Linked DNA regions of Homo sapiens. The protein of the gene in region 2 purifies or fractionates together with the protein of the main gene of each other region. This does not show direct contact. Each region holds a gene or a part of one and is shown on either strand. Other genes may lie near its edges.

The links.
Region 1: the proteins of AHSA1 (region 2) and DDX39A fractionate together in Homo sapiens (co-fractionation; 2 studies listed by BioGRID). This does not show direct contact.
Region 3: the proteins of AHSA1 (region 2) and FASN purify together in Homo sapiens (affinity purification with mass spectrometry; 2 studies listed by BioGRID, with this or other methods). This does not show direct contact.

What each region holds. Positions count from the first base shown.
Region 1 is NC_000019.10:14,408,986-14,419,420, forward strand, and holds the start of DDX39A (ATP-dependent RNA helicase DDX39A), read right to left. Parts: upstream 10,357-10,435; 5' UTR 10,285-10,356; intron 10,068-10,284; exon of another isoform or gene 9,944-10,067; intron 4,240-9,943; 5' UTR 4,236-4,239; coding exon 4,028-4,235; intron 3,694-4,027; coding exon 3,566-3,693; intron 2,614-3,565; coding exon 2,521-2,613; intron 2,188-2,520; coding exon 2,004-2,187; intron 1,350-2,003; coding exon 1,231-1,349; intron 889-1,230; coding exon 757-888; intron 661-756; coding exon 551-660; intron 463-550; coding exon 318-462; intron 200-317; coding exon 52-199; intron 1-51. UniProt on the Homo sapiens protein: Helicase that plays an essential role in mRNA export and is involved in multiple steps in RNA metabolism including alternative splicing. Regulates nuclear mRNA export to the cytoplasm through association with ECD.
Region 2 is NC_000014.9:77,459,232-77,469,666, reverse strand, and holds the end of AHSA1 (activator of 90 kDa heat shock protein ATPase homolog 1), read right to left. Parts: intron 10,052-10,435; coding exon 9,861-10,051; intron 7,508-9,860; coding exon 7,425-7,507; intron 7,026-7,424; coding exon 6,908-7,025; intron 5,070-6,907; coding exon 4,981-5,069; intron 4,129-4,980; coding exon 4,000-4,128; intron 1,585-3,999; coding exon 1,483-1,584; intron 1,211-1,482; coding exon 1,159-1,210; intron 591-1,158; coding exon 418-590; 3' UTR 195-417; downstream 1-194. UniProt on the Homo sapiens protein: Acts as a co-chaperone of HSP90AA1. Activates the ATPase activity of HSP90AA1 leading to increase in its chaperone activity.
Region 3 is NC_000017.11:82,086,409-82,096,843, reverse strand, and holds part of FASN (fatty acid synthase), read left to right. Parts: intron 1-391; 5' UTR 392-398; coding exon 399-525; intron 526-1,371; coding exon 1,372-1,524; intron 1,525-3,072; coding exon 3,073-3,246; intron 3,247-3,424; coding exon 3,425-3,625; intron 3,626-3,824; coding exon 3,825-3,947; intron 3,948-4,031; coding exon 4,032-4,147; intron 4,148-4,254; coding exon 4,255-4,389; intron 4,390-5,159; coding exon 5,160-5,622; intron 5,623-5,774; coding exon 5,775-5,962; intron 5,963-6,279; coding exon 6,280-6,469; intron 6,470-6,703; exon of another isoform or gene 6,704-6,884; intron 6,885-7,117; coding exon 7,118-7,212; intron 7,213-7,459; coding exon 7,460-7,594; intron 7,595-7,671; coding exon 7,672-7,875; intron 7,876-7,967; coding exon 7,968-8,083; intron 8,084-8,281; coding exon 8,282-8,454; intron 8,455-8,536; coding exon 8,537-8,728; intron 8,729-8,809; coding exon 8,810-8,890; intron 8,891-8,982; coding exon 8,983-9,159; intron 9,160-9,339; and 5 more. UniProt on the Homo sapiens protein: Fatty acid synthetase is a multifunctional enzyme that catalyzes the de novo biosynthesis of long-chain saturated fatty acids starting from acetyl-CoA and malonyl-CoA in the presence of NADPH.

The DNA.
Region 1 (10,435 bases), on a different chromosome or scaffold from region 2:
CGGGGGAGGAACCCTCTGCCCCAGACCCCTGGCCCTGCCCAAGGCACTTACTGTATGTGGAGATGTCGATTTCCTCTGGAAGTTCTGCCACATTAACTTCAAACCGGTCCTGGACGTCATTGAGGATTTTGGCATCATTCTCGTCAGACACAAAAGTGATGGCTAGGCCTTTGGTGCCAAAGCGACCCGCCCGGGCCACCTGCAGGCAGACAGGATCAGGGTCAGGCCACAGATACTACCTCAGGACTTGAGGAAAAGCAGGGCTGGGGCCCCACCCCACCGCCAGGGGAAAGCAACATGCCCGTGAGGCTGCTCACCCGGTGCAGGTAGGTGTCCGAGTCCTCAGGCATGTCGTAGTTAAAGACGATGTTGACTCGCTCGATGTCCATCCCCCGGCCAAACAGATTGGTGGCCACCAGGATCCGCCGCTGGAAATCCTTGAACTGCTGATAGCGTGACAGGCTGGGGTGCAGGAGAAACAAGTGGAGGCCGTCAGACACTGGGCTCCTGGTGGTGCTCCCTGCAGCCTTGGCGGGCGGCTCGCACTCACCGCTCCTCCTGGGCCATGCCCCGGTGGATGGCGATGGCCGGGAAGTTCTGCTCCACGAGGAGCTGGGCCAGGGCCATGCAGCGCTGCACTGACTTGACGAAGATTATCACCTGAGGGAAGGAGTGGCAGTCAGGGCCACACAGTCCCTGTGGCCCAGTGACCTCCCGAAGGTCCTGAGCCCCAGGACAGGCTGATGGAAGTATCACCTGGTTAAACTCCAGCACATCCAAGAGATCAAAGAGCTTGCGGTTCTTCTCACTGTCTTTGAGTTTGACGTAGTACTGCTGCAGGCCGTGCAGCGTGAGCTTGGTCTCGTCGTCCACAAACACCTCCATGGGCTGTGTGGGAAGGGAGGTGGGAGGGGCGGGCAGGGATCACCTCTGGGCATCTCGCCTGCCCAGAACCTTCCAGTGGGCGACTCCTTTGTGCGACACTTCCCAGAGGACCTGCTGCACCAGACCTCAGTAAACATCGCTCAAAAGCTGGATGTAAGCTCTGGCCCGACTCAGGTGTGGACCAAGCTTGACTCCCAGTTTGACAAGACCGAGGGGAGGAAAGGAGGCTCCGCCGGCTCCCAGCATCCCAGCATCCTCCGTGCCATGTGGGCCGTGCGGGTGTCCTGGGGCCCCAGGCTCCAGGCCCCTGGGGAAGGCCAAAGCTGCCACTCTCGCCCTACTCACATCCTGCATGAACTTCCTGCACACAGGCCGGATGTCCTTGCTCAGGGTGGCGCTGAACATCATGCACTGCTTCTCGTGTGGTGTCAGGCGGAAGATCTCCTGCACATCCCGCCGCATGTCTAGGTGGGGAGGGCAAGACATGGGTGGGCATGAGCGTCTGCCATGCAGGACCCCCACCCCAGACCAGACCCAGACCCCTCCCAACCTGTGCCAGGGAGCCAGTGGCACCGTGACGAGGGCAGAGTGAGCCGCGGGAGTGGCCAGTCCTGGTGCCTGAGGGGCTGGGGGGTGGCCAGCGAGCGCAGGCGCGGGAGGAGCTGCAATCCACTTACACGCTGGCGCGGAGCAGCCGTGCCCGTGCGCCTCGAGCCACGCTTCAGGGAGGGGAGCCTGAGGCAGAGACAGCCGCTGGGGTGAGAGCTGCAGCTGCCTCCCAGGACACAAGCCCATCTCCCACCGGCCCTGTCGGGGCTCACTGAGGGCAGGCGGGGCCTGGAACCAACCCAACAGGTGGCAGAAGCCTCATACTCCCAGAGGTATGTGTGCATGCCTTTACGTCCAGGAGGGACGGGGGCTTGCTTGGGCCCCGTGGTCCCATTCGGCTCGGGCTCAGAAACAGCACATCCCTCTGCCAGCAGCAGAGCTTTCCCCAAGATCACCACAGGAGCCCCGCCTGCCGGCCGCCCATGTAACCCACTCAAGAGCCTTCCGCCTGCTATGGGGCCCGCCTAGTCACTGACTCTCAGCTGGGGCTGCAAGGGCAGAGGACTCACCCAGCTGCTCCAGCATCTTGTCACACTCGTCCAGCACAAAGTGCTTCACATTCTTTAGGCTGAAGCTCCTATTCCGCACGAGCGCCAGGATGCGGCCCGGGGTCCCCACCACGACATGGGGACAGTTCTTCTTCAACACTTCTTCATCCTTCTTGATGGAGAGACCACCGAAGAACACAGACACCTATGGGGATGAGGAGGAAACCGCTCCATGCTGATACACGGCCCAAGGCCCCAACCTGCACGGCCCAGCACCTGCGAACAGGAGGCCTCAGGGGACCAAGGCAGGCCTGAGAGCCTCCCGGGGCTCCACTCAAAGGCAGCCCCAGGCTGGGACCTGCGCAGGCCCCTGGGAGCCATGCATAATTCATCAGGCTTTTAAGGAGCAAAAACCACCGCAAACCTCAAAGGCAGCTGCCCCTGCCAAGCTTGGTAAATGCTGGCTGGGCCAGAGCCGAGGCTAACAAAGCTGCAGAAACCAAGTGGCGCCTGGTCCAGTCTGGCCCGAGGGACTCACCTTGACGCTGGGCATGTACTTGGAAAAGCGCTCATATTCCTTGCTGATCTGGAAGGCCAGCTCCCTCGTGTGGCACATGACCAGGACCGTCACCTGGGAAGTGGCATAAGAAGAGGGCCTTACCTTAGGCAGTGTCCTAAACCCCTTCCCCACCAGAGTCCACCCAACCCAGTCCCCCTGACACTGCACCCAACATCACAGGCCATTTGAAGGCCCGGTCCAAATGCCTCCCACTTCTCACGGCCCTTCCCCACCCCTCACTCCCTATACCCTCCCACAGCTATTGAAACCTGTCTCCCAACACCAGGACCCACAATAAGAAACAGAAAATGGAACAGAAAATGGCCCGCATAATGTAATGGTTAGACCTGGCCTGCCTGGGTGACATGGGACCTGGCTCTCTAAGGATTTCCTGAATCTCGGCACTCGGGCGGCCCCGGTCTTCCCACCCGTGCCATCAGACACTGGACCACACCACAGCCCTCCACAGCACCTTCATCCTTCAGGATGTGCTCTGAGATAACGAGGGCACGGGCGCCAATATGAAGCCCAAAGATGTGCACCTGGCCTGACTCGGGAGCAAGACACCAGAATTCACTGAAGTGTCTCCCCAGGACAGTGGCACACAAGACAATGGGAGAAGACAGCCAGGGCCTAACAGCAAGGACAGTGGTGACAGCTATATTCGGGGCAACCCAACCTTCACAGATGGACACTCTCTAGGTAAGTGGCACGGCAAAACAGCAACGATGCCTCTGGGGCAAGGGGCAAACTGTGGGCACTTTCCAGTTATTTTGGCTTATTGGCAATTTCTAATTTTTGTTATAACTAATTATTTTTTGAGATGGAGTCTACCTCTGCCACCCAGGCTGGAGTGCAGTGGTGTGATCATAGCACACTGCAGCCTCGACTTCCTGGGCTCAAGCAATCCTCCAGCCTCAGCTTCCCAAAGCACTGGGCTAACAGGTGTGAGCCACCCCATCCAGCCTACTCTACTTCCGCCGCCACAGGCAGGGTGGGGCCAGGAAGGGAGGAGCCCACCCACCTGTCCGTTGACAGGCTCAATCTGCTGTAGGGTGGCCAGCACGAAGACCGCTGTCTTGCCCATCCCGGACTTGGCCTGGCACAGGACGTCCATGCCCAGGATGGCCTGGGGAATGCACTCATGCTGGACTGCAGGAGAAGCAGAGCGTGAGGGACGAGAACCTGGATGCACCCCCGTGCAGGATCCTCACCAGTTGACCGGGGGCCCACAGTGAGGGCAATCAGAAGAGGCCGAGTCCGGACAAGGCCACAGACACCTGCAGGGCTGGGGTATCCGCCTGGTCAAAGCAGAACGCCCCACTGCCGAGGGCAGCCACAGGCCCCGCTGGGCACAACTGATCCGCGGGACAGACGGGCCCCTCCCTCACCCACGGCAAACTGGAGGCGGCACCGCTCTGGGCGGGCAGGGCTGGTCTTGTCTTGGTGAGGACCTGGGCAAGAGGATAACACCCAGAAGGCGTACCCTCAGAAGGATGCTCAAAGCCACAGTCCACGATGGCCCGCAGGAGCTCCGGCTTCAGCAGAAAGTCCCGGAAGCCAGAGCTGTGGATGGAAACGTAGGATCCCTTGATGTCTTTCTTAGGGGGAGCTGGTGTGCTCTCTTGAGGAGCCTGGGGCTCTTCCTCTTCATCGTAATCCAAAAGATCGTTTTCCACATCCTGTTCTGCCATGATGCTGAGAAGAGAGAGAGGCAGGGTCCCGCGAGTGGGCACAGAAGGATGATGAAGCTTCATTCAAATGGCATTCTCTGCCGCCTCCTTCCATGAGTGAGCCCATCAGCTCTACCTGGGCTGCACCTCGCAGCTTCGCCCTGTCTCCACCTCCCCACCCCCAAGCTACCCCATCTCTCCCCCATGCCCCTCTGGCCACACCCACAGACAGAACACCCTCCACCTCCAAGGGCTTCCCATGGCTCACAGAGTTAAAATCCCAACTCTCACCACAGGCCAGGCAATCCCCTTGGTTTGACCCCTGCTCACCTCATCCCACACCACCCCCAGCCTTGTTCAGCTGCTCAGACCCCTGGAGCCCCTGCCCCAAGCCTTTGAACCTGGCTGTCACCGCCAGGAATGCTCTGCCCCCAGGTCTCTGCACAAATGCCTCCTTCTCCACACGCAAGCCTCAGCTCCAGTGAACCTCCTCAGACTACTCAGCCCAGAGAAGCCCCCTCCCTATCACTCCCCAAGGAACCCACTGGGCTTTCATGGGGCAGGAGCCCAAAGATCCCAGGGGTGGGGCTGCCAGGATGCTGGTGGGAACTGAGTTTGCGAGAGAGCAAGCAGTATCTGTCCAGCCCCAGCTTCTCCCACTCTCTGTGGTCTGCACAGGGGAATAATTAAGTGCTCTCATGAAAGGCCTCCTATTGGGCCTGGGCCAATAAAAATAAAGCTGAGAAGATGGAAAATGGAATTAATACAAAGTCTGCCTACCTCTTTGCTTTATTAATCTAATGCATACCAAGTGCCTGCTGGGTGCAAGGGACCCAAACATGAGGACAATTGTCTTTCGTCCTCCTCCCCTACCCCAGACTCCAGTGGGGGGTGGAGCAGAGGGTGACAGCTGCTACAATTCTTCCTGAGGCTGGATGCTGAGGATCCTAGGCCACTTTTGGCCTCGCTGTCACTCATTCCCGGCTCAGAAACAGCAATTCCATTGTCTCAATGGCTGTTTTCTCTCTCTCAACCTCCCTGTCCATGAGGCAGTGAATCCCACCAAGGCCCTCTGGCCAGTTCTCACCTATGCTACCATGCTGGCCCCAAGCTGCTATCACCTGTTTTATTATTATTATTATTATTATTATTATTATTATTATTATTATTATTGAGATGAAGTCTTGCTGTCACCCAGGCTGCAGTGCAGTGGCGCAACCTCGGCTCACTGCAACCTCCACCTCCAGGGTTCAAGATTCTCCTGCCTCAGCCTCCTGAGTATCTGGGATTACAGGTGCTTGCCACCATGCCCAGCTAATTTTTGTAGTTTTCGTAGAGACAGGGTTTCACCATGTTGGTCAGGCTGGTCTCAAACTCCTGACCTCATGATCTACCCACCTCAGCCTCCTAAAGTGCTGGGATTACAGGTGTGAGCCACCGCGCCTGGCCTTATTATTATTTTTAACTAGAACAGCTTTACAGGCTGCGCGCGGTGGCTCACGCCTGTAATCCCAGCACTTTTGAGAGACCAAGGCGGGTGGGTCACCTGAAGTCAGGAGTTCGAGACCAGCCTGACCAACATGGTGAAACCCCAACTCTACTAAAAATACAAAAATTTAGCCAGGCATGGTGGCAGGCGCCTATAATCCCAGCTACTCGGGAAGCTGAGGCAGAAAAATTGCTTAAACCTGGGAGGCGGAGGTTGTGATGGGCTGAAATCACGCTTCACTCCAGCCTAAAAAAAAAAAAAAAAAAAAAGAAAAGCTTCACAGAGATATTTACATGCTATACAACTCACCACTTAAGGCAGATAATTCAGTGGTTTTTAGTGTAGTCACAGACATGTGCAACCACTACCACATGTGCAATTTTAGAATACTTCATCACCTTGAAATAAAAGCTCCTGTACCCTTTACGTATCCATACCCTAAACACCCCACCCCAGCCCCGGGCAACCACTAATCTGCTTTCTGTTTCTATGGATTTGCCTGTTGTTGTGGACATTTCACATAAATGAAATCTTATAATTTGTGACATTTTGTGTCTGGCTTCTTTCACTCAGCACAGTGTGCTCTACCACATCATCAGTACTCCCTTCCTTTTTTTTCCCCCCTCTTTGAGACAAGGTCTTGCTCTGTTGCCCAGGCTGGAGTGCAGTGGCCCAATCAAAGCTCACTTCAACCTCTGCCTCCCGGGCTCAATCAAGCGATCTTCCCACCTCAGCCTCCCTAGTAGCAGGAGCTACATGCGCCCGCCACCACTAATTTTTGTATTTGTAACAGAGATGGGGTTTCACCATGTTGCCCAAGCTGATCTCCAACTTGTGGGCTCAGGCGATCCGCCCACCTCAGCCTTCCAAAGTGCTGGGATTACAGGTGTGAGCCACCACACCTGGCCTCATTTCTTTCCATGGTCACCTAATGTTCCATCTCACCAACATACTACATTTTGCTTAACCACTGTCAGCTGGACATGTAGGTGCCATCATCTCTTGCCTGAATTAAGCCAATATCCTCCTCCCTGGTTTCCCTGTTGCCATCCCCCAGCCCCTCCCCAGAGCAGCCAGAAAGACCCTATCAAACTAAGTCACGGCCAGGCGCGGTGGCTCACACCTGTAATCCCAGCACTTTGGGAGGCCTAGGCGGGCGGACCACCTGAGGTCAGGAGTCCAGGACCAGCCTGACCAACATGGTGAAACCCCATCTCTACTAAAAATACCAAAAATGTGCCGGGTGTGGTGGCGGGTACCTGTAATCCCAGCTACTTGGAGGCAGGAGAATCACTTGAACCTAGGAGGCAGAGGTTGCAGAGAGCCGAGATCACACCATGGCCCTCCAGCCTGGGCGACAGAGCAAGACCAAGACTCTGTCTCAAAAAAAAAAACAAACCTAAGAGTACATCACTATTCTGCTCAAAACTTTTAATGGGTTCCTACTGTGCTTAGAAAAAAACTCGAGTCCTCACAAAGCCAGCCTACCGGGCCCCTCCTAACCCGACTCCTCTATACTCATACCTCATCTCCCCCATTGCCCCTCACTCGCCAGCCTTGCTGCCGTGTCTCAAACACACCTCAGCACCTTTGCACTTGCTGTTCCTGCTGCCTGGAAGGGTCACAAATCCCCCACTTCTTTTGGGCCTCCTTTGCTCCAGAAAGGCATTTCCTCACAGCCCCAACTAAAACAGCACCGCTTCCAGTCAGCCCTGCCCTGTGAGAACAGCTAATAAGCACTCCATAGCAATGGCTGAATAAATGGAACTAGAATAAAGGCGTTCAGGCAGAGTTGAACATGTCTCTTTATCTGACCCTTCAAACAGGCAATCTGAAGGGGTCACTTCCCAGGCAGCAGGGAAAACAGGAGCCAAGAAAGGTCAGTCCGAAAAGCACCAGAGCCTTTTGGGGTATGCAGAGTAGGACTAGCTGGCTGGCGTCAGGGCAGAAGACAAAGCTGGAAGAGCTGGTCAGCCACACAGGGCATGTGTTTGTTTGTTTGTTTTTTTGTTTTTTGAGACAGGGTCTCGCTCTGTCACCCAGGCTGGAGTGCAGTGGTGCAATCATAGCTCACTGGAGCCTCGACCTCCCAGGCCCAGTGAGTCCACCACCTCAGCTTCCTGTGTAGCTGGGACTACAGGTGCATGCCACCACGCCTGGCTAATTTTTGTTTTAGTAGAGACAGTGTTTCACCACGTTTCCCAGGCTGGTCGTGAACTCCTGGACTCAAGCAAACCTCCTGCCTCTGCCTCCCAAAGTGCTGGGATTACAGGAATGAGCCACCCACCACGCCCAGCCTGGGCCTGTGTACTTGTTAAGCAATAGGGAACTGCTAATTAGATTGGAGCTGAGCCACTCAATCAGGATCTGCCCAAGAGTACTGTAACTTACTCCTCCGATGAAGGGGTAGGTTAAGACCAGTAGCAGGGAAAACCAGTCACCAAATAAAAGAGAAGTAACCAGGGTAGGGGCGTGAGGTAAGGAAAGAAAGGGTGGGACATGCCAAAAGACAGGAACATCCCCTGACCAATCCATGGGTAGAGAAAAGCCACAGTCTATTCTGGGCTCCAAATCTAGGTGGCCAAGAGATGGTGTATTTTAAGGAAATAAAGCAAAGTTGTTTTGTTGGTGGGGAAATAAATTTGGGGCAGGCCCGGCATGGTGCCTCACTTCTGTAATCCCAGCACTTTGAGAAGCCAGCGTGGGAGGATGGCTTGAGCCCAGGAGTTCGAGACCAACCTGGACAATAAGTCGAGACCGCGTCTATACAAAAACAATTTTTAAAAAAGTAGCCGGGTGGGTGGGGGGAGGGGGGAGGGACAGCATTAGGAGATATACCTAATGCAAATGACGAGTTAACGGGTCCAGCACACCAACATGGCACATGTATACATATGTAACAAACCTGCACGTTGTGCACATGTACCCTAAAACTTAAAAAAACTTAAAAAACACATAGCCCAAGGGGCACCTTCTATGTAGCAAAGGCTAAAAAATAAATAAGTAGAAATTAAAAAAAGAAAAAAATTAGCCCGGTGTGGTGGCATGGGCCTGTAGTCCCAGCTACTTGGGAGGCTGTGCCGGGAGGATCGCTTGAGCCAGGAGGTCGAGGCTGCCAGTGATGGCGCCATGGCATTCCAGCCTGGGTGACAGAGGGAGACCCTTTCTCAAGAAAAATAAATTTAAAAAAAGAAATTGGGGCCCAGCGTGGTGGCTCATGCCTGTAATCCCAGCACTTTGGGAGGCGAAGCGGGCGGATCACTTGAAGTCGGGAATTAGAGACAAGCCTGGGCAACATGGTGAAACCCCGTCTCTACTACAAATACAAAAATTAGCCGGATGTGCTTGCTTGAACCCGGAAGACGGAGGCTGCAGTGAGCCGAGATAGTGTCACTGCACTCCAGCCTGGGCGACAGAGCAAGGCTCTGTCTCAAAAAAAAAAAAAAAAAAAAAAAAAGAGAGAGAGAGATAAATAAATTGGGGTGAACCGAATCTGCTAAGATAAAATTTTCGAGAAACCGGGCTGGACAGGATCTAAAGCTCAAAACTGATTAGATCAGGAAAGGATCCGGCGGGGTTTTCCCCGCCCAAAGTGGGTGGCCATGACCGCTAAGGCGCCAGGAGCGCATGAACTTGAAAGGTGACAGCGGGGAACTCACAACCCAGACACGCCACGTGTACCCAGTTACCCTCAAGTGTCCCCAGGCAGGCTTTCCACCCCGGAGTTTATTCCCACCTGGGGACTCCTATTTCCAAAAGAAAATCTTTTTTTCATTCTGTTTTTTTTGAGGCAGAATCTCGCTCTGTCACCCAGGCTGGAGTGCAGTGTCGCGATCTCGGCTCACTGTAACCTCCACCTCCCGGGTTCAAGCGATTCTCGTGCCTCAGCCTCCCGAGTAGCTGGGACCACAGGCGCTCGCCACCACGCTCGGCTGATTTTTTTTTGTATTTTGAGTAGAGACGAGGTTTCACCATGTTGGCCAGGCTGGTCTCGAACTCCTGACCTCAAGTGATCCGCCCTCCTTGGTCTCTCCCAAAGTACTGAGATTACAAGAGCCACCGCGCCCGGCCTTCCAAAATAAAGTCTTATTTGCTCTAAATCTCAGAATCCCGAATCCCGTAAAAAGTAGACCAAGAAGAAGGTAGACTGGGAAAGGGATCAAGTCCCTCGGACCCAAAGAAACCCCTGACAACTGAAAGCTCCAACTTCTCCCACCCAGGCCCCAGACCCCGGCGTCACCCCCTCGTCCCTCTCCAAATGGCCCCAGGCCGCCGCGGGGTCTATTCGGACGAACTGACAGACTCCAAGTGGGGCTCGGAGCGCCGTAGGCCATGACAGCCCCTCCGAGAAGCGGGCCCCGAGCCCCGAGCACCGCGCGCCAACGGCTGGCCCACCCCTAGCGCATGCGCCCCGGTGCCCAACGGCCAACACACAGCGCTCTGACACACCAACCGCCCCGCCCCCACCGTCTCGCGACCCTTTCTCCCCCTCCCCTTAGATCCCAACGTCTCCCCTCGTCCTCTCGCTCTCAGTTCAGACGTCCCCACACCGCGGCCCCGCGCCCGGGATCCGCTGCTCACCTGGCTCCCCGTTCTTCTCCGCGCGCTGCTAAGAGACACTTCCAACTTCGGTTTTCCGCCGGGCGCTCAGACACGAGTTGCTGCGCTTCCTGCCTCTTGCGTCGGGCTGCTGCTCTGCTGACTGGGCCGCTGCCTTTTCATTCAAGAGAGG
Region 2 (10,435 bases):
AGAAACTATTTACTAGTAAGAAAGACTAGCTCAGGAATGCCTGGTAGTGAGAAGCAGGCTCTGTGCCTCTTAATTACCTACACTTACCCAGAATAGAGACAAGGCTGTCCACCCTGTCCTTCTTTTTTGAATTCAAAACCTTCAAGGGAGCTCTCAATACCAGCCACTCAATCAACATAGGTTCCAGACACGCATGTTTTTTAAATTATGTTTATTTAGCATATGTACACATAAAAGAGAAATTGCCCTCTGAACCCACCCAGCAGAAAACATGCACAAACCCAAGGTATATGTGGAAGGGAGGGGCCCCGGCCCCAAGTTAGCAGCTGGGACGATGCAATCCTGTGAGTCGCAAGCCCCAGTCAGGAGAGAGCTGGACTGAAGTGTCCAGCAGGCTGGAGTCCCCTGCCGCTGGCCCTAAAATAAGCGTGCGCCATAGCCAAAGGTCTGTTTAATGCCCTCAAAGTAGTACCGCTGCCAGCCCTGTCGCGTCCGCTCTTCCTCAGGAGCAGGGATGCCTCGACCTTCCATGCACAGCTCAGTCTCTCCGTTCTTGTCGATGAAGGTCAAGGTGATGGTGGCAAAGTGTCCTGGGAAAGGCAGAGGGGACGGAGGTTTCATATCTAGGTTTCCATCTGAGTTTAAGACTGGGGCAACCTGGCTGGGCGTGGTGGCTCACACCTGTAATCCCAGCACTTTGGCAGGCTGAGGTGGGCGGATCACCAGAGGTCAGGAGTTCCAGACCAGCCTGGCTAACATGGTGAAACTCCATCTCTACTAAAATTACGTGGGCGTGGTGGCATGCACCTGTAATCCCAGCACTTTGGGAGGCTGAGGCAGGAGGATCACTTGAGCCCAGGAGTTCGAGACTAGCCTGGACAATGTAGTAGGACCCCATCTCTACAAAAAAAGTAAAAAAGTAAAAAAAAAAAAAAAAAAAAAAAAGCTGGCATGGTGGCACACGTAGTCTCAGCTACTTGGGAAGCTGAAGCAGGAGGATCGTTTGGGTCTGGGAGGTTAAGGCTGCAGTTTGCTGTGATTATGCCACTGCACTCTAGCCTGAGTGACAGTGAGACCCTGTTTCCAAAAAAAAAAAAAAAAAAATTACAGCAAAGAGAAAAAGTTCTGGGGGTAATGGCAATAAATATGTTTACTTACCCTCTGGCCAAGATTTAAACCTCCACTTCATCACAATATGTTTCTCAGGGACCTAAAATAATCAAACAGCTCAGTCTATATTATATACTACAATGTACCCAATCCTAGCTAGGATCAGTCATCTGCCCTTCATACGGAGTCTACCATCTGTGCAATTATATTACTTGCAAGACAGTTCAAATCACAGCCTTTTTTTGAAAAACAAAATGTTTTATTAACAAAGAGATTAAAGCCTTACATTTTACCTATAGAGTTCAGAAAAAGAGAAATGTCACTCATCTGACCAGAGGCAATAACCTGAGTCTAGGGCCGGCAGGTACTCACCAGATCAGTAAATTCCCCAGAGACGTTGCCATCTACCATGTGGAACTTTCCACCTCTGTCTGCTTCTAATGTTGCAGGAGCATGGGTAAAGGCCTGCACCAGCTGCAGGGAAAAAAAAAAAAAAAAAAAAAAAGAGGCAGAAGATACATGGCTTTCAGTGGGACCCAAGGACAAATGCCAGCTGAAGGCTGCATGCCTCAACTCTCATTTCCACCAGTCTGCCCCACAGGCGGGTCCAGGGTGTCCCTCTATTCTGTTTTAATACCAGCCAGGACTTGACTTCGGGAATTCTTTCTGATCTGATGATGCCATTACTTTGGACCCGTTTACTTTTATTTATTTGAAATTGTATATGGTTCAGAAAGATATAAGAATGAGCTTATGAAAGAAAATTCTCAAGTAAATGTTTGAGACTTCTATTATCATTTCTGAGAACATGTCCCAAAATAGATCTATTCCATCTTTTATTTTATTTTATTTTTTTATTTATTGAGACGGAGTCTCACTTTGTTGCCCAGGCTGGAGTGCAGTGGCGCGATCTCGGCTCACGCAACCTCCGCCCGTCCAGGTTTTAAGCAATTCTCTGCTTCAGCCTCTGTAGTAGCTGGGATTACAGGCGCATGCCACCATGCCTGGCTAACTTTTTGTATTTTTTAGTAGAGATGGGGTTTCACCATCTTGGCCAGGCTGGTCTTGAACTCCTGACCTCGTGATCCACCCACCTTGGCCTCCCAAAGTGCTGGGATTACAGGCGTGAGCCACCGCGCCCAGCCCTTTTATTTTTTTTGAGATAGGTCTCGCTCTGTTGCCCAGGCCGAAGTGCAGTGGCATGATCATGGCTCACTGCAGCCCCGACCTCCTAAGCTTAGGTGATCCTCCCACCTCAGCCTCCTGAGGAGCTGGGACTACAGGCGCATACCACCATACCTGGCTAATTTTTGTATTTTTTGTAGAGACAGGGCTTCACCATGTTGGCCAGGCTGGTCTCAAACTCCTGGGCTCAAGTAATTCACCCGCCTCAGCCCCTCAAAGTGCTGGGATTAGAGATGTAAGCCACTGTGCCTGGCCTACTCCATATATATGAAATCAGTATCATTTTGCTGTGTTCGATTACCCAACGGTGCCGCTTTTACTTTTAATAAGACTTTACTATTTTTTAAAGTAGGTAATACGAATACATGGTACAAAATTAAAAATAAACAGAAGGTTAAAAATGTTAGGAATCCTCCCATACAAAAGTATTTTAAAACTCTGAAAACTTTAGCTAGTTTGGAAGCAGAGATTCAACTGAAGTCTGTGTTGAAGTGCTAAATTCAATTCACATGAAGACCACAGCTATGCTGCTAAGTCCTTCAAGGCAGCAGGCACCAAGTAGAACCAAGTTAGCCATCGAATGCAGTCTTTGGCATAGCCAGGTCATAACACATCTCTGGAGTCAACTAAGATAACTTTCTGAAGTACAGTACAATTTTGTTTATACACATCTTTTTAAATTTCTAGAAAACCCAGTCCATTTAATTGCTTCTCCAGTTCTTGGTTTTCTAAGGGGGAGAGAACTTATCACGAGAGTATTTTGGGTGCAGGCGCACAGACATACTAACACCCATATACTACATGGTACCTCTTAATTTATGGCTGTATTTACATTTTTGTTTAAAAAATAAGATCTTGAAATTTTGTCCCAGAGTATATGGGAACTTCCACATATCCTAACCACCTTTACTATCAGATAATAAAGCTGAATACGGTCATGTTTCTCAACTCCACACTATAGCAGCAGAATGGCACAAGTCAGCTGTGCAACACAAAGAAGCCAGGAATTCTTCTGTGCTACAGAGTAACCAAGAATGGCCATTCACTTTTCTAGTAAGATTCACTCAGTGGTTTCTACTTATATGACCCAAAACTGGAACAGGCACGGTAGTGTGCACCTGTAGTCCCAGCTACTCAGGAGGCTGAGGAAGGAGGATCGCTTGAGCCCAGAAGTTCAACGTTAGTCTGGGCAACATAGCAAGACCAGGTCTTTTGTTTTTAAAATAAATAAATATGGCCGAGCACAGTGGTTTGCACCTGTAATCCCAGCACTTTGGGAGGCTGAGGCAGGCAGATCACTTGAGGTCAGGAGTTTCAGACCAGCCCATCTCTACTAAAAAATATGGTGAAACCCCATCTCTACTAAAAAACATAAAAATTAGCTAGGCGTGATGGCGTGTGCCTATAGTACCAGCTGTTCAGGACGCTGAGGCAGGAGAATTGCTGGAACCTGGGAGGCAGAGGTTGCAGTGAGCTGAGATTGTGCCACTGCACTCCAGCCTGGGCAGGTGACAGAGCGAGACTCCGTCTCAAAAAAAAAAAAAGAGAATAGAGGGAGGGAAAAATTCACTTTGATGAAGGCCTCATGGCTCCAGTTGTGAGTTTGTGAGTACCTCTTCTGTACACTGCTGAAGGGATATGCCCCCAACTCAAGTCACCTAGAAGGGCAGATGGCATGAGGCCTGAAGGACAAGACTTACTTACCTCTTGGGTGGTAAACACTCTATAGAGCTCCTCTGGTGACGTCAGGAAGGTTTCCTTAAGAGTGATCTTACAAGTGGGGATTTTGACTCCAACAGGTCTGGCCTGGGTTTTTGAAGGAGCAGGCTTAGCCTGTGAAGGTGGCAGTGAAAATGATCAATACAGAGTAATGATACAACCTCAATCAACGTGGCTTCAGAGACAGTTGTACCATTCATTCTCATAAAAATGTTCACCTCCAAGGGTAATTATTCCAAGGGGTTTGAAGGGAATTTGAGTGTGTAGGTGTTTCAGTCATGAGGGTAATGATTCTGGAAACCTCCTCAATTCCCAGTAAAAATAACCACTCTACAAGGAAGACCCTGATAGTCAAATAACAAATCAAATCATTGAGATATTTTTGAAGAGCTCAGTGTAATTCTCAAACAATTTCTATGTTTAAATAGCTGGAAGCGGTTTTCTCCCCACTTCCAGAGTATCCACTTCACTATGCTGACAAAAGAGCAACAGGGCTCTAAACCAAGTGCTGAGCTTGAACCACAAACTTCCATCTCTAGATAAAGTACTTGCTCACCCTGAAAATTGGGGAGATTGGGTGAAGACAGGGATGTAACTCCATTTCTTGATGGGACCTCTAATATCAAAGTATGAAATATCAACACACCAATTAGACTGAAGACTTATATAGGTGAAGTCCATCCTTTGTTCATAACCTCCTAACTGGTGCTAAATGCAATCAAGAGTCAGACTTTTAACTGTCTGATAGCTCCTACTTGCTCTAAAGGTCTGCGATAAATGAATTAAAACCAGGTTAAAGATGGGTGAATGAATGCATATTGCAGGCGCTCTGAAAAAGCACCATGAGCAGATCGCAGGCTGGTCTGGCTTAGAGGTTAGGGACACAGAGAGCTGATATGTGGAATTAAGAAGGCGGTCTCTCAAGTTCCTTTGCAGACAGTCTCCCACCCCAGGAAAACCATTTACCTTGCGCTCCTCAGTTTTCAGTGCTGGCTGCCCCACTGGGTCTACTGACTCTCCATTCATTGTAGGTAAGATCATGCCCTGGGTGAACTCTGAAAAGATAAAATTCCAGCTCATGGAAGTTACTTCTTAGTAGCTGAGATCTGGAGTTTCATTACAGCTTGACAAACACAGCCATCCTACCACAGAATGAGGTTATGACCAGAAAAGGAAGAGGCTATTTTTACATCTTTACTTTTGGCCTATGCCAGACTGGTACCTGGGTATATGCTATAGAATACAGTATGTTCACTGGGATTATTATTATTTTTTTTTTGAGATGGAGTCTTGCTCTGTCACCAGGCTGGAGTGCAGCCTGCACTCCAACTCACTGCAACCTCTGACTCCCTGGTTCAAGCTATTCTCCTGCCTCAGCCTCCTGAGTAGCTCGGATTATAGGCGTGCACCACCATGCCCAGCTAATTTTTGTATTTTTAGTAGAGACGGGGTTTCACCATGTTGGCCAGGATGGTCTTGATCTCCTGACCTTGTGATCTACTAGCCTCGGCCTCCAAAAGTGCTGGGATTACAGGTGTGAGCCACTGCACCTGGCCACTGGGATTATTTTTAAAAGCTTATCCTGACTCAACTGGAAACATTATAACATATTAAGTGCATGTGAGGTCTACTATGGAAGGATGGCGTGAACGCCGTGGCACTTTGATGACTTCAAGAGTGGGTAATCTACCCAGCACCTATGGATGCATGGTTAGTGCCTTTCCTCCACTCTGCCTTACCTCTGCAGAAAAGCCACAACTAGTTATGGCACTGGTGTACTGGTCCTCCCCAAAAAGGTGTCTATCACCTTCCATCACCTTCTTTGATGGTTATTATACATATTCCAACACCAAGATCAGAATACACTGGCAGAAATGGAATCCCAGGGGAAAGCTGAGCTGACTTCTATTCTAAGCATCTAAATATCCCTGGAGAGTGCATATCAAAGATAGTCCAGACTGTATTCAAGTAATGAGTCCAGAGATGCCAAGTCTTTAGATTAGCGCTGTCCATTAGAAATATAATGTGAGCCTCAAATACAGTTTTTTTTTTGTTTTTTTTTTTTTTGAGATGGAGTCTCCCTCTGTCACCCAGGCTGGAGTGCAATGGCGCGTTCTTGGCTCACCGCAACCTTTACCTCCTGGGTTCAAGCAATTCTCCTGCCTCAGCCTCTTGAGTAGCTGGGATTACAAGCATGCACCACCATGCCCGGCTAATTTTGTATTTTTAGTAGAGATGGGGTTTCTCTATTGGTCAGGCTGGTCTCGAACTCCCGACCTCAGGTGATCCGCCCACCTCGGCTTCCCAAAGGGCTGGGATTATAGGTGTGAGCCACTGTGCCCAGCCCGTAGTGTAATTTATACTCACAGCACATCTCTTGTGTTTTTTGGTCATCCAGGCTGGAGTGCAGTGGCATGATCTCAGCTCAATGCAACCTCCCTGCCTCCTGGGCTCAAGCCACTCTCCCACCTCAGCCTCCCGAGTAGCTGGGATTACAGGCATGGGCCACCGCATCCAGCTAATTTTTGTATTTTTTGTAGAGACAGGGTTTCGCCATGTTGCCCAGGCTGGTCTCAAATTCCTGAGCTCAGGCAATCAGCCCACCTCAGCATCCAACAGTGCTGGGATTACAAGTGTGAGCCACCGCGCCAGGCCATCACAGTACATTTCAGTTTGGTCTAGCCACATCTAAAATGCTCAACCATCATTATTAGGCAACACAGCTCCAGATCTTTCCCTTACTCCGAGCTTATGGACTGACTTTAAGATGAAATAAGCCCCCTCCCCCCAAATCTTTACCCATTTGCCAAAGAAAGGACTGTCCAGGCCCTTAACCAGAGTCTAACAGGTGGAAACTACCTCCTTAAGGCATACAGAACTACTCAAGGGATACCTGTTTTGAGGGTGCTGATGTAAATTCCCATTGCTTCTCTTAGAAGTTTCACCCCTTCTTCCTTCATTAAGGCCACGAGATTTGTGTCAGGCTCATCTTTGGCAAGGCTCACACTAATCTGGGTGAAAGATGAGAAGTAGGTGGTAAATAACTTGAGGGGCACCCTCATTATGGAATGTGGGGGCTGAGCAATCAGGTGACTGCTGACATTTCCAAAGGAAATGCATGAGTACTGCGGTATTCGTACAATCCCCATTAGTGTTCCTTCTTGAGTCCTCTCTGTCAAGTGGCTAATGTTAGTTAGAACCCATGTCACTAGCTAAAGTGAAGAAATTAAAGAAGTGCAAATTGCTCTAGAAGTTTCCAATGGCACCATATGCCTAGAAAATTATCTGCAGGCTAGGGTTCTGAATGCTTGGACCAAGCCTGGGCTATGAATCCTGAATGACAGGTCACTTTTCTCATCTGAGAATAAGAGGATATAGAGGACTCGGATTAGGAGTTATGAAGCACAAACCTCCACTTCATCCACGCTGTTTTCATCAGACAAATTGGGGATCTCCACATGTCCTTTGTATTGTACTCCTGACTTAGAAGTACCTGTCAAAACCAATGCAATGTCATTAGTCCACTCCTTGGCAGGAAAGGTCTCTGCTCCAGGGTCCTAACTGCTACCTCACTTCTGCTGCTTTTGGATGGCTGAACTGATCCTCTTTATTCTGAGAATGCCACATGCCAGATGCAATCAACACCCGCACCCCCAAAAGAAATGTCTTTCCTCACCAGGTTACTGGAAACCAACTATGTTATTACAATGTGAGACAAAGAGCTACAGATTTGGTACTAGCATGAGTTATACCATGAGAACTTGGGTCAAAAGCCAGTAGTTCTGCTAGAATACTTGTTTTGAAAATATCAATTTATTTCAGTGCAACTGAAATATTAGGGAACAATTTGATTATAATGAGAAGTTCATGTTTGCTTATATGTGACTCCATCCATGAGAAACACTAGGTGAATACGGAAAGCCTCACCCAGCTACACAGGATACATAAAACACACACATCTCAAACACCTATCTGCCAATGACCTCAGTTTACAGCGTGTGTTGTGAGCCATACCCATCCTCAACGAGTGTAATGTTCCCTCTGATTGTGGATGACTCTCCTTCTACCATTCCATAGTAGTCCTCAAGCTGCAACCCTTCTGATGCCCACCTTTTCCCCCCGCAAGACAGAGTCTTGCTCTGTCGCTCAGGCTGGATTGCAGTGGCATGATCTTGGCTCATTGCAACCTCCACCTCCCAGGTTCAAGCAATTCTTCTGCTTCAGCCTCCCAAGTAGCTGGGATTACAGGTGCGTGCCACTACACACGGCTAATTTTTGTATTTTTTAGTAGAGATGGGGTTTCACCATGTTGGCCAGGTGTGTCTCCAATTCCTGACCTCGTGATCCACCTGCCTCAGTCTCCCAAAGTGCTGAGATTACAGGCGTGAGCCGCCGCGCCTGGCTTTGATGCCCACTTTCACAAATAAACTTCAGGTCTTTTTCATGGTAAAGCACCATATTTATTGTAGTATTCACCTATTTTTTATTTTTTTTGAGATGGAGTCTCACTCTGTTGCCCAGGCTGGAGTGCAACGGTGCGATCCCAGCTCACTGCAACCTCCGCCTCCTGGGTTCAAGCGATTCTCCTGCCTCAGCCTCCCGAGTAGCTGGGACTACAGGCACATGCCACCACGCCGGGCTAATTTTTTGTATTTTTAGTAGAGACGGGGTTTCACTGTGTCAGCCAGGATGGTCTTGATCTCCTGACCTCGTGATCCGCCCACCTTGGCCTCCCAAAGTGCTGGGATTACAGGCGTTAGCCACCACGCCCGGCCTATATTTATCTATTTCTTACCATTTAATGTGCACAAAACTATGCTACCAATTTTTAGTCCCTATATTAAAAAAAAAAAGCGTCGGCCAGACACAGTTCGAGACCAGCCTGGCCAACATGGTGAAACCCATCTCTAATAAAAATACAAAATTAGCCGGGCGTGGTGGCGGGCACCTGTAATCCTACTTGGGAGGCTGAGGCAGGAGAACTGGTTAAACCCGGGAAGTGGAGGTTGCAGTGAGCCAAGATCGTGCCACTGCACTCCAGCCTGGGTGACGAGCAAAACTCTGTCTAAAAAAAAAAAAAGGAGGTCTGAGCAAGATGACACCGAAGATTCCTTCCACACTACTATGCTTCGAGTGTACTTTAAAAACAAATTAACAAAAATCATGGACAGATAGATCTACTTGCACCCTTCTTTATGATATGACTGTTCACTTCGGAAATGTTTATCAAAGCACAAATTTCATGCTTTGCCCCATACACAGACAGTAGCTATCTCATACTCCCTTAGCTTTAGTGCCTTTTTACATTCAGGCTCCCGACAGTCAGGACTGTCCAAAACGGTCATACGCATGACCTCAATTTTTTCCTAATGTCATACACAAGGGACATAAAACTAGAAGATAGATAAAACAGCCCCAAATTACTGTCACACACAAGCTTCATTAGCGCAGTGGTTTAATCTGTTAAGATTCACACTGAAGACAGTGCACAAAGATCAAGACCAAAAAAATCCTCTCCTTCCTCCTTTTAAATCACTCACAAGATACATGTAGCTAGTCTGAAGAAATATCATCGTAGGTGTCCCAACAAAGACCAAGGCCCAAAGATGCAGTGGCCCGGCCACTTCATGGATGGGACTTATGAGACCCAGACACAGGAAATCCATTTAGCATCCCACAATGGCAAAGAAATTCCAGGACTCGATACTGCTTTACATAGGACTCCAAAGCAGCAACATCTGCCTTCTCCCTTCAAGGTCTGTAACTCCTCAAAACTGTTCTCTCCAGCTACTTAACAGGTTAAACAAAACACAGTTAATCTCTCTGACAGCCCAGCTTAGACTTACCTGTCCAGTTTAGTTTGACGCTCCATTCATAAAAGAAGATAAGTTTCCCTTTGCGATTGTTAATGGATGCCTCTCCATCAAGCTTACTCACTTCCGTCACCTCACACTTGCCTTCTTCATTTTGAACCTGCACTGCCAGGAACAGTGTTTTCAGCTTATCCGTGGACCAATTTGAAGCATCTCTCTCCGTCCTGCAAAGCAGAAACAGAGCTATGAACCAGCAGTCAAACGGAGGATACGCTGCTCTATGCAAGAGAATACGAGGTTAAAGGAGGCCTGACAAATAGTTTGAAAAGAACACAAAAACTCCCAGTCGCACTCCAGTATGTCCACAAACATGTCATTCTTTTTTAGGAAGACAAGGGGTTGCACACTGTCAACAAAGACAGCTGCTGTAGAAAATGGTATAAACTCAATGGAAAATTATGCTCTCCTTTCTCGGCATGATGGTGCGGGGGAATACTTGATACTTTAACATGGCGCCCCCATTTGACCAAGTGGAAAACTGCACATATTGCTGAGATCAGGAACACAGACTGGACCATGAAAGAATAGTACTTAGCTAAAAGGCCCAG
Region 3 (10,435 bases), on a different chromosome or scaffold from region 2:
GGTGCCCTAGGGATGGCCTGGGACAAGCTCCAGGAGCCTTGGAAGGCTGAGACTCAGGCGAGTGGAAGCCGACACAGGCGCAGAAACCAGTAACTGCTGGGGAGGCCAGGGCTGCAGGGCTCCAGTGGGGTACCCCAGCCAATACCCTGAACTGAATGGGTCAGGGCCCAGAGGCGGGCCTGTTCCCAGAGCACGCAGCCCCTCCCAGCGAGAGCGGGGTCAGGGCCCAGGAACTGGCCACATGAGGAAGGGAGCCGCAGGAGCCAGGGCCCGCACGGACCCTCAGGGTGGTGCTTGGCCCCATGGGTGTCCACCTGTTCTGGGTGCCGAGGCTGTTGACGGGGGTGTCGTGGCCGGGATGTGTGGGGCACTCACACCGCCCGCCCTGCAGAGCAGCCATGGAGGAGGTGGTGATTGCCGGCATGTCCGGGAAGCTGCCAGAGTCGGAGAACTTGCAGGAGTTCTGGGACAACCTCATCGGCGGTGTGGACATGGTCACGGACGATGACCGTCGCTGGAAGGCGGGTATGTGGCTGCGGGGCTCCCCGTGCCTGGGGTGTGAAGCTCCATCTCCACCTTTGTCCTCACAGCAGCCTCCCTGCTGTGCTGTGTCCTCACCACCCAGGCACTGGCCTGAGGCCGGTCCCAGCTGCAGAGCCACTGGTCACCCATGGGCGAGGCCTAGCTGCAGCCTCCTTCCTGGACATTGCACCAGAGTGGCCTAGAAAATGCGCCCAGCCTGCCAGGAGGTTCCCTCAACGGCTGCAAGGCCAACAGGAGGCTCCCCCAATGGCTGCAAGGCCGAGGGCTGGCCCAGGCAGGGCCCATCTGCTTGTTACGGAGGAGCCAAGCTCAGAGGATGGGTGACGGGCTGGGGTCTCTCACCCATGCAGGGGGTGCGGGGGGCCAGAGCCCTTCCGGCCAGGCTGCCCCTGCCTGTGTCTGTCCTGAGCTGGGAGGTTGCATACCAGATGTGCTCCGGGAGGCTGGAGCAACTGCCCCACACCCAGTAGGCTCTTCCACAGAGCAGCTCTACCTGACAGGCAAGCTGTGAGTCAGCATGGTAGAGCCGAGGCACCAGCCCGGCAGATGGTCCCCCAGCCTCACTCCCGCCGAGCTCTCTGCTCTGCGGCCCATCTCAGGATTGGGGCTTGGGGCTTGGGGCTTGTGCAGCAGATCTGGTCGTACCAGTCCCCGCTTTGGGGCCATGGTCTTCCCCTCCTGGGGAGCCTGCTCCATTGTTTGGGCCTCCCAGGCATAGCAGAGAGTCCTCAGTTCCACCATGGCCCCTCCAGGGGCCTGCAGCACCCCACAGGGCCCCCACCTCTGGGCAGCTTCCGTCAGAGATTTAAACACCCGCCTGTCCCACAGGGCTCTACGGCCTGCCCCGGCGGTCCGGCAAGCTGAAGGACCTGTCTAGGTTTGATGCCTCCTTCTTCGGAGTCCACCCCAAGCAGGCACACACGATGGACCCTCAGCTGCGGCTGCTGCTGGAAGTCACCTATGAAGCCATCGTGGACGGAGGTGGGTCGGGCATTCGCGACTGCTGCGCCGAGGGCTCCTGCTGCTCACGTGGAATAGGCAGTGTTTTCTCTTCTTGGTTCTGGTAGAACCAGGTGCTGGCACCACCTACCCTCCCCGGCTGTGCCCCTGGCCTGGCCAACGGGCTCAGGGAGGTGTGGGCCACGGGGTAGGCCGCAGTTTCCCAACTGCACCCCAGAGGTGTCGCGGGTGTGCCCTGACCTGAGCGTACCAGTCTCCTCGCTTCTGATGTCTGGCTGGTGCTGGGGCCGGGGCCGGGGCTGGAGTGACGAGAGGCAAAGCAGGAGGTTCTTGAGGGGCCCTCCAGGCCCCCACCCCCACCAGCCAAGCAGCGGACAGCACCGGCCCTGCTGTCTCTCCCCTCCCACCCTCCCCACTACCCTTGCCCACGTCCCCCCACCCCAGGCATTTCAACCCTCTCCCGCCAGCCTGGCCCTCGCTCTGACTGGCATTTGACCTCGGACAAGCGCCACGCCGTTTTTTTATTTTTATTTTTATTTATTTATTTATTTTTAAGACGGAGTCTCACTCTGTCACCAGGTTGGAGTGCAGTGGCGCGATCTCAGCTCACTGCAAGCTCTGCCTCCTGGGTTCACACCATTCTCCTGCCTCAGTCTCCTGAGTGGCCGGGACTACAGGCGCCCACCACCACGCCCGGCTAATTTTTGTATTTTTAGTAGAGATGGGGTTTCACCATGTTTGCCAGGATGGTCTCGATCTCTTGACCTCGTGATCCATCCATCTCAGCTTCCCAAAGTGCTGGGATTACAGGCATGAGCCACCACGCCCAGCCATGCCATTTCTTAAGATCCAGGTGCTCCCTCCCCGGGCGGAGAAGGACCTCCTGAGGGGGAGGCTGAGCCCTGGGCTGCCCTTGGGTGTGAGCGGTTCACACACCCACCCACCCTAGGGCAGAGCCAGCCCACCAGGGGCGAGGAGGGGCCCTGCTGGCCGAGAGGTGGAAGCCCTTCTCCTGCGCCCTTCCTGCTGCCAGACCCCACCCCAAGACTAAGGTTATGCTCCCCGGGGGTGACCGGTGTCCCTCTCTCCTTCCCGAGCCTGGACACTTGGCCTTTGTCTCCTCGGTTCCTTATCACGGCCTGTTCTGGTGCAGGCTGCCCTTGGCGCTGGAGAGGCCACTGGCCGACGGGCTCATCAGAGCTGCCGGTGACACCAGGGGCCAAAGGCGTCGCCTGGGGACAATGCTGCCCTCTGTCCTTCCTGGAGCCACTCTGGCCGTGCCTGGTGCCCTCCCCTGGGCCCGCCTGCCCCCTCCGCCTCGTTCCCTCTGTGACCTGGTTCCTGTTCCAGGCCTCACCTGGGCTGGCTGCTGGCCACAGGCTCTGTTCTGGCCCCTCTGCAGGACACCTCACCCTCCTTAGGCCCCTTCCAGGGTCCCACTGGGATGGACCCCCCCTCACCCCAAGCCAGTGAGGCCAAGATGGGACCTTCGCCCCAGAGCCGGGTGGGTGGGTGGGCTGGCTGCGCTGTGGGGCCCGGCCGTGGCACCTTGACCACTGTTTGTGGCAGGCATCAACCCAGATTCACTCCGAGGAACACACACTGGCGTCTGGGTGGGCGTGAGCGGCTCTGAGACCTCGGAGGCCCTGAGCCGAGACCCCGAGACACTCGTGGGCTACAGCATGGTGGGCTGCCAGCGAGCGATGATGGCCAACCGGCTCTCCTTCTTCTTCGACTTCAGAGGTGGGTCCTGCCCAGCCTCCTGCGGAGGTGGGTGGCCTTCAGGTCCCCACATGCTGAGCAGAAACCACGTGGCGTGGGCTCACTCCGTGCAGTGTGTGTCCAGCCTGGTGGCAGGAGGTGTGCTCAGGGGTCTCGTGTGCTCACAGCCCCACCTGAGCCGCAGCACCCTTCCTTGCAGGGCCCAGCATCGCACTGGACACAGCCTGCTCCTCCAGCCTGATGGCCCTGCAGAACGCCTACCAGGCCATCCACAGCGGGCAGTGCCCTGCCGCCATCGTGGGGGGCATCAATGTCCTGCTGAAGCCCAACACCTCCGTGCAGTTCTTGAGGCTGGGGATGCTCAGCCCCGAGGGCACCTGCAAGGCCTTCGACACAGCGGGTGAGTGTGCGGCTGCGCGGCCAGGGCAGGCGGGACAGTGGCACAGGACGGCCCCCCGCACAGTCCCCACGCTGAGCAGGATCCTGCCAGCTCCGGGGATCCCCCACCCAAGCACCCACCCCACACCCCAGAGCTCCTCCTGGTGGGGTGGGGGCCGGCGTGGGGCTGAGCCCCGGGCCTGAGGTGCTGCTCTACCCAGGGAATGGGTACTGCCGCTCGGAGGGTGTGGTGGCCGTCCTGCTGACCAAGAAGTCCCTGGCCCGGCGGGTGTACGCCACCATCCTGAACGCCGGCACCAATACAGATGGCTTCAAGGAGCAAGGTGGGCTCTGCCGGGGTTCCGGGGTGCTGGGGGGCAGGTGGGAGCCGGGGCTGGGGCTGCAGCACTGAGCCGAGCCCTCCGCAGGCGTGACCTTCCCCTCAGGGGATATCCAGGAGCAGCTCATCCGCTCGTTGTACCAGTCGGCCGGAGTGGCCCCTGAGTCATTTGAATACATCGAAGCCCACGGCACAGGCACCAAGGTGATGCCCCCCCCCCCCGCCCCACTCACCACCCCATGAGCCTAACCTACGCCCATGCCTGGAGAGGTGACCTGGCCAGAGCCCCTCACCCCCCATGTTTCCCACAGGTGGGCGACCCCCAGGAGCTGAATGGCATCACCCGAGCCCTGTGCGCCACCCGCCAGGAGCCGCTGCTCATCGGCTCCACCAAGTCCAACATGGGGCACCCGGAGCCAGCCTCGGGGCTGGCAGCCCTGGCCAAGGTAGGTGGGGCTGGGCTTGGGGGTCCCTCAGGCTCCTGCTCCCTGGGACTGGGTTGCGCCATGGCTGGGCACTGCTGCTTTCTCTTTGCCAAGTGGAGGCGGGGGCTTCCCCACCAGGAGCCTCTGTCCCCCGGGCTATGCTGCAGGTCTGAGCAGAGGCACTGAGGCTGACAGCAGGGAGAGCTCGTAGCCAGGCTCGCTGGGCCTTCCCTGGAGGCCTGATGCCCTGCAGAGCGTCTGCCGGACACGGAGCCGAGCTGGAGGAGCCGCTTGGGTGGGAAGAGCGAGGCAGGAGCAGGCCTGGGGGGGTCCACGGCACCATCAGGGTCTCCCGTGTCGCCCACCCGTCCCTACAGCTTCCTGACCCACTAGCAGAGGCCTGGGGACCTTTAGAGAGACCAGGCACAGGAGCCCCAACACCCATGATCACTCACGCCCTCTGCCCCCCAACTTCTGCAGCCTCTGAGATGCAACATCTGGGCCAAGGGGGCCTTAGTGTTCAGGCCACAGCCAGGCTTTGGTGGGTCCACATCAGGCTGGGAGGCAGCAAGGCCGGAAGGGGAGGTCTTGGACCAAGCTGAGGGCAGGGCCATGGCGGCTCAGTCCTCGGACCCCTGTGCCATGGCAGAATTAGGTTGGGGACAGGAAGTGCATCGGAGAGGGCCCTGGAACCCTGGCCCCACATGAGAGTCTCGGGGAGGTGCCTGCCCCCAGCTCAGGCAGTGGTAGAGGGAGTGGGGCGGCTGCCCATCCACCACGTACCCCCGCAGGTGCTGCTGTCCCTGGAGCACGGGCTCTGGGCCCCCAACCTGCACTTCCATAGCCCCAACCCTGAGATCCCAGCGCTGTTGGATGGGCGGCTGCAGGTGGTGGACCAGCCCCTGCCCGTCCGTGGCGGCAACGTGGGCATCAACTCCTTTGGCTTCGGGGGCTCCAACGTGCACATCATCCTGAGGCCCAACACGCAGCCGCCCCCCGCACCCGCCCCACATGCCACCCTGCCCCGTCTGCTGCGGGCCAGCGGACGCACCCCTGAGGCCGTGCAGAAGCTGCTGGAGCAGGGCCTCCGGCACAGCCAGGACCTGGCTTTCCTGAGCATGCTGAACGACATCGCGGCTGTCCCCGCCACCGCCATGCCCTTCCGTGGCTACGCTGTGCTGGGTGGTGAGCGCGGTGGCCCAGAGGTGCAGCAGGTGCCCGCTGGCGAGCGCCCGCTCTGGTTCATCTGCTCTGGTGAGCCCACACTCTGCCCCCAAGGTGGTCCCTTCCCTGGGGAAAGGCAGGCGAACTGGAGCTGGTGGTCCCCTGAGGTGCTCTCTGGGACGGGGATGGGCACACAGTGGCACGGGATGGGGCTGAGCCTCGTGACGTGCTCTCTGGGACAGGGATGGGCACACAGTGGCGCGGGATGGGGCTGAGCCTCATGCGCCTGGACCGCTTCCGAGATTCCATCCTACGCTCCGATGAGGCTGTGAAGCCATTCGGCCTGAAGGTGTCACAGCTGCTGCTGAGCACAGACGAGAGCACCTTTGATGACATCGTCCATTCGTTTGTGAGCCTGACTGCCATCCAGGTAGGGCCCAGCCTGCCAGCGTGTGAGCAACGCCAGCCCCAGGGCTCTGGCTTTCCCTGGAGCCCAGGAGCTGCAGTGTTGAGTCCGGGGCCCCTGACAGCCCCTTTGCTAGGCAGAGCCTTGTGCTGGGGGCAGGACGGGAGGGGAGGAGGGGTCTCAGTGGGGCTGTGTGGGGGCCATAGGGGCTTCTTTCCTATCAGGAGACCTGGGAGGGTCGATGGGGCGCGGGGGTGGAGATGGCCTAGTGGGGCCGGGGGCCGCCCCCAACAGCTGCACCTGCTGGAGGTTGCAACCTGAGTGTCCTGTTCCCACCCCAGATAGGCCTCATAGACCTGCTGAGCTGCATGGGGCTGAGGCCAGATGGCATCGTCGGCCACTCCCTGGGGGAGGTGGCCTGTGGCTACGCCGACGGCTGCCTGTCCCAGGAGGAGGCCGTCCTCGCTGCCTACTGGAGGGGACAGTGCATCAAAGAAGCCCATCTCCCGCCGGGCGCCATGGCAGCCGTGGGTAGGTCTCCCGGAGGGGCCCCCAGCACCTCCAAGAAAGGAGGCTGCCTTCTCGCTGTGGGGTCCTCACCTGCAGCCCTGGCCTGGCCCCCGTAGGATAGAGTGGCCCCCGCTGGCCCGGGGACACCCAGCTCGGACACAGCCGTGCGCGAGTCCCCTGCAGCTGCCCCACTGGCCCCACACCTGGCAGCCTTGGGCCTAGGCACGTGTCCATGGGCATCAGGCCTGCGTGGAGCCCCCGTGTGATGAGCACACAGCTGCAGCATAGCAAGAACCCAGGGGCTCTGGTGAAGCCAACACACGGGTCATCAGGGTTCCCTCAGACTGGTGCCCTCTGTTGGCACCCATCTCTGAGCCCCATGGGCCACATGTGGGCAGGACCTGGAAAGAACCTTGGCTGCAGAGGACTGAGGGGGCCACCATCTGGGGACTGGGCTCCCAGGAGCTGCCCCTGGAGTGGCAGCTCTGTAATGACACCTCCACCCACGGGTCAAACACAGCAGGGGGCGAACCTTTCTCATGAAGGCTCCAAGGCTGCCATTACCACACTTGTCATTACTGCCCCCAGCTGCAGGCAGTGTCTGGGTGGGTGGGTGGCTGGGAGCGGCTCGGTGTCCACGCTAAGCCTCTGAGGCTGGCTCTGCCATAGGCTTGTCCTGGGAGGAGTGTAAACAGCGCTGCCCCCCGGGCGTGGTGCCCGCCTGCCACAACTCCAAGGACACAGTCACCATCTCGGGACCTCAGGTGGGTGCTGCGGCCTGGGCGGGCTCCTCTGTCCCCTGCGCCTGCCATTGCAAGTCTGGCAGGGACACGCGGCCACGGTCTACGCCCCACCAAGCTCTGACGGGCCTGGGGCATGGGGCAGGTTTGTCCTCAGGTCCCTTGCCCATTCCCTCTCGGTTCCCTTGGGGTGAGGTGGGTGCGCCCTACCTCTCCGAGCCTGAGGTGGGTGCCCAGCCAGGATGCTTATCCAGGCTCCCACGATGTCCAGGCCCCGGTGTTTGAGTTCGTGGAGCAGCTGAGGAAGGAGGGTGTGTTTGCCAAGGAGGTGCGGACCGGCGGTATGGCCTTCCACTCCTACTTCATGGAGGCCATCGCACCCCCACTGCTGCAGGAGCTCAAGAAGGTGGACTAATACGGCCTGGGGGGTGCGGGGCGGGCCAGGGGACCCACAACCCAGCACTGACCTGGCCCCTCATGCAGGTGATCCGGGAGCCGAAGCCACGTTCAGCCCGCTGGCTCAGCACCTCTATCCCCGAGGCCCAGTGGCACAGCAGCCTGGCACGCACGTCCTCCGCCGAGTACAATGTCAACAACCTGGTGAGCCCTGTGCTGTTCCAGGAGGCCCTGTGGCACGTGCCTGAGCACGCGGTGGTGCTGGAGATCGCGCCCCACGCCCTGCTGCAGGTAGGCCCAGCCTGGGGGCAGCAGGCGCCGGGAGCCTGGGATGGGCGCCTCAGCTGAGCACCAAGAGAGCCCACCTGCCCTGCCGCCCCCAGGCTGTCCTGAAGCGTGGCCTGAAGCCGAGCTGCACCATCATCCCCCTGATGAAGAAGGATCACAGGGACAACCTGGAGTTCTTCCTGGCCGGCATCGGCAGGCTGCACCTCTCAGGGTGGGTCCCTTCCCAGCCCGGGTCTCGTCTCCCGGAGTCGGGGACGGCGTGGGGTGGGTGAGCGGGGCTGCGGGCCCCTCACTGACCCAGGCCGGTGGCAGCAGCCCTGGATGGTCCACCGCAGGCAGTGGGTGGGCTGAACCCAGAGCCCCTGGACCCCGGTGACGGGTGTGCTACCCATGCCTCCCTTCTCCGTAGCATCGACGCCAACCCCAATGCCTTGTTCCCACCTGTGGAGTTCCCAGCTCCCCGAGGAACTCCCCTCATCTCCCCACTCATCAAGTGGGACCACAGCCTGGCCTGGGACGTGCCGGCCGCCGAGGACTTCCCCAACGGTTCAGGTTCCCCCTCAGCCGCCATCTACAACATCGGTGAGCAGGGGCCCGGCGGGTGGGCAGACTCTTCCCTCCCCACAGACGCCCGCTCTGTGCTGAGGCCTGTGCCCTCCCGCAGACACCAGCTCCGAGTCTCCTGACCACTACCTGGTGGACCACACCCTCGACGGTCGCGTCCTCTTCCCCGCCACTGGCTACCTGAGCATAGTGTGGAAGACGCTGGCCCGCGCCCTGGGCCTGGGCGTCGAGCAGCTGCCTGTGGTGTTTGAGGATGTGGTGCTGCACCAGGCCACCATCCTGCCCAAGACTGGTGAGGGGTACCCCAGGACCAAGGCGGGGGTAGCTGGGGGGCGGGTGCTGCCCTCTGATCTCCAACTCTCCCGCTCTGCAGGGACAGTGTCCCTGGAGGTACGGCTCCTGGAGGCCTCCCGTGCCTTCGAGGTGTCAGAGAACGGCAACCTGGTAGTGAGTGGTAAGCAGGGCCGGTGGCACGGGAGCTGCGGAGGCTGTGCCCGCTGGCCATGCCGCCCGTCCTCAGGCCCTTCCGCACCTCCCTTTCCACAGGGAAGGTGTACCAGTGGGATGACCCTGACCCCAGGCTCTTCGACCACCCGGAAAGCCCCACCCCCAACCCCACGGAGCCCCTCTTCCTGGCCCAGGCTGAAGTTTACAAGGAGCTGCGTCTGCGTGGCTACGACTACGGCCCTCATTTCCAGGGCATCCTGGAGGCCAGCCTGGAAGGTGGGTACTGACTACACTGCTGCCCAAGCCACCGGGGAGGGCGGTCGTCATTGTGGGGACCACAGAGGGCACCCACAGCTAGGCATGCAGCTTGGGAGGGAGCAGAGGGGCCCGGTGGGCTCTGGGAGGTGGCCCCAGGGACCTGGGAGTTCCACAGCACCAACCAGGCCCTGTGTGCAGGTGACTCGGGGAGGCTGCTGTGGAAGGATAACTGGGTGAGCTTCATGGACACCATGCTGCAGATGTCCATCCTGGGCTCGGCCAAGCACGGCCTGTACCTGCCCACCCGTGTCACCGCCATCCACATCGACCCTGCCACCCACAGGCAGAAGCTGTACACACTGCAGGACAAGGCCCAAGGTAGCCCCGCCCCAGCCCCAGCCCAGTGCCCCCACCCAAGTATGCCGCACTCACCCAGCCTGTCCCCACAGTGGCTGACGTGGTGGTGAGCAGGTGGCTGAGGGTCACAGTGGCCGGAGGCGTCCACATCTCCGGGCTCCACACTGAGTCGGCCCCGCGGCGGCAGCAGGAGCAGCAGGTGCCCATCCTGGAGAAGTTTTGCTTCACTCCCCACACGGAGGAGGGGTGCCTGTCTGAGCGCGCTGCCCTGCAGGAGGAGCTGCAACTGTGCAAGGGTGAGGTCCCAGCCCTGCTGGCTTCGGACACCTCTGGCGATGAGGAGCGATCGCCTCCCCTCACGTTGACCCCAGACTTGCTTCTCCACGGGGCCCCCTTTGGGGTCAGCAACCCTAGCCCAACCCTCCGGCCGGAGCTCACGATGGCGGCCTCCCTCCCTCCCCCAGCCCCCAGCCTTCCTCGTCCCTGGTCACTGTTCCTCAGTCTTGAAAGGGTACTTGGGGGCAAAGATGACAGATTCAGCCTAAGGTCACACCTTGGCTAGGCACAGAGTAGCCCCTGCAGCTGAATGCGGCCCCTCACTGCGTCCACAGTGGGCAGGAGTCAGCCTCCCAGTGGTGGGCAGCCCCTTCCTCAACCCTCAGCTATTTCTCATCCTGTGGGCAGAGCGGGGTGGTGGCCCCAGAAGGACAGAGTGGGTCTGAGAGCCCATGCCAGGCAGATGCCCTGGGGCTTTGGGAACACCAGGCCTGCCTCCCTCCCTCCCCAGGGCTGGTGCAGGCACTGCAGACCAAGGTGACCCAGCAGGGGCTGAAGATGGTGGTGCCCGGACTGGATGGGGCCCAGATCCCCCGGGACCCCTCACAGCAGGAACTGCCCCGGCTGTTGTCGGCTGCCTGCAGGCTTCAGCTCAACGGGA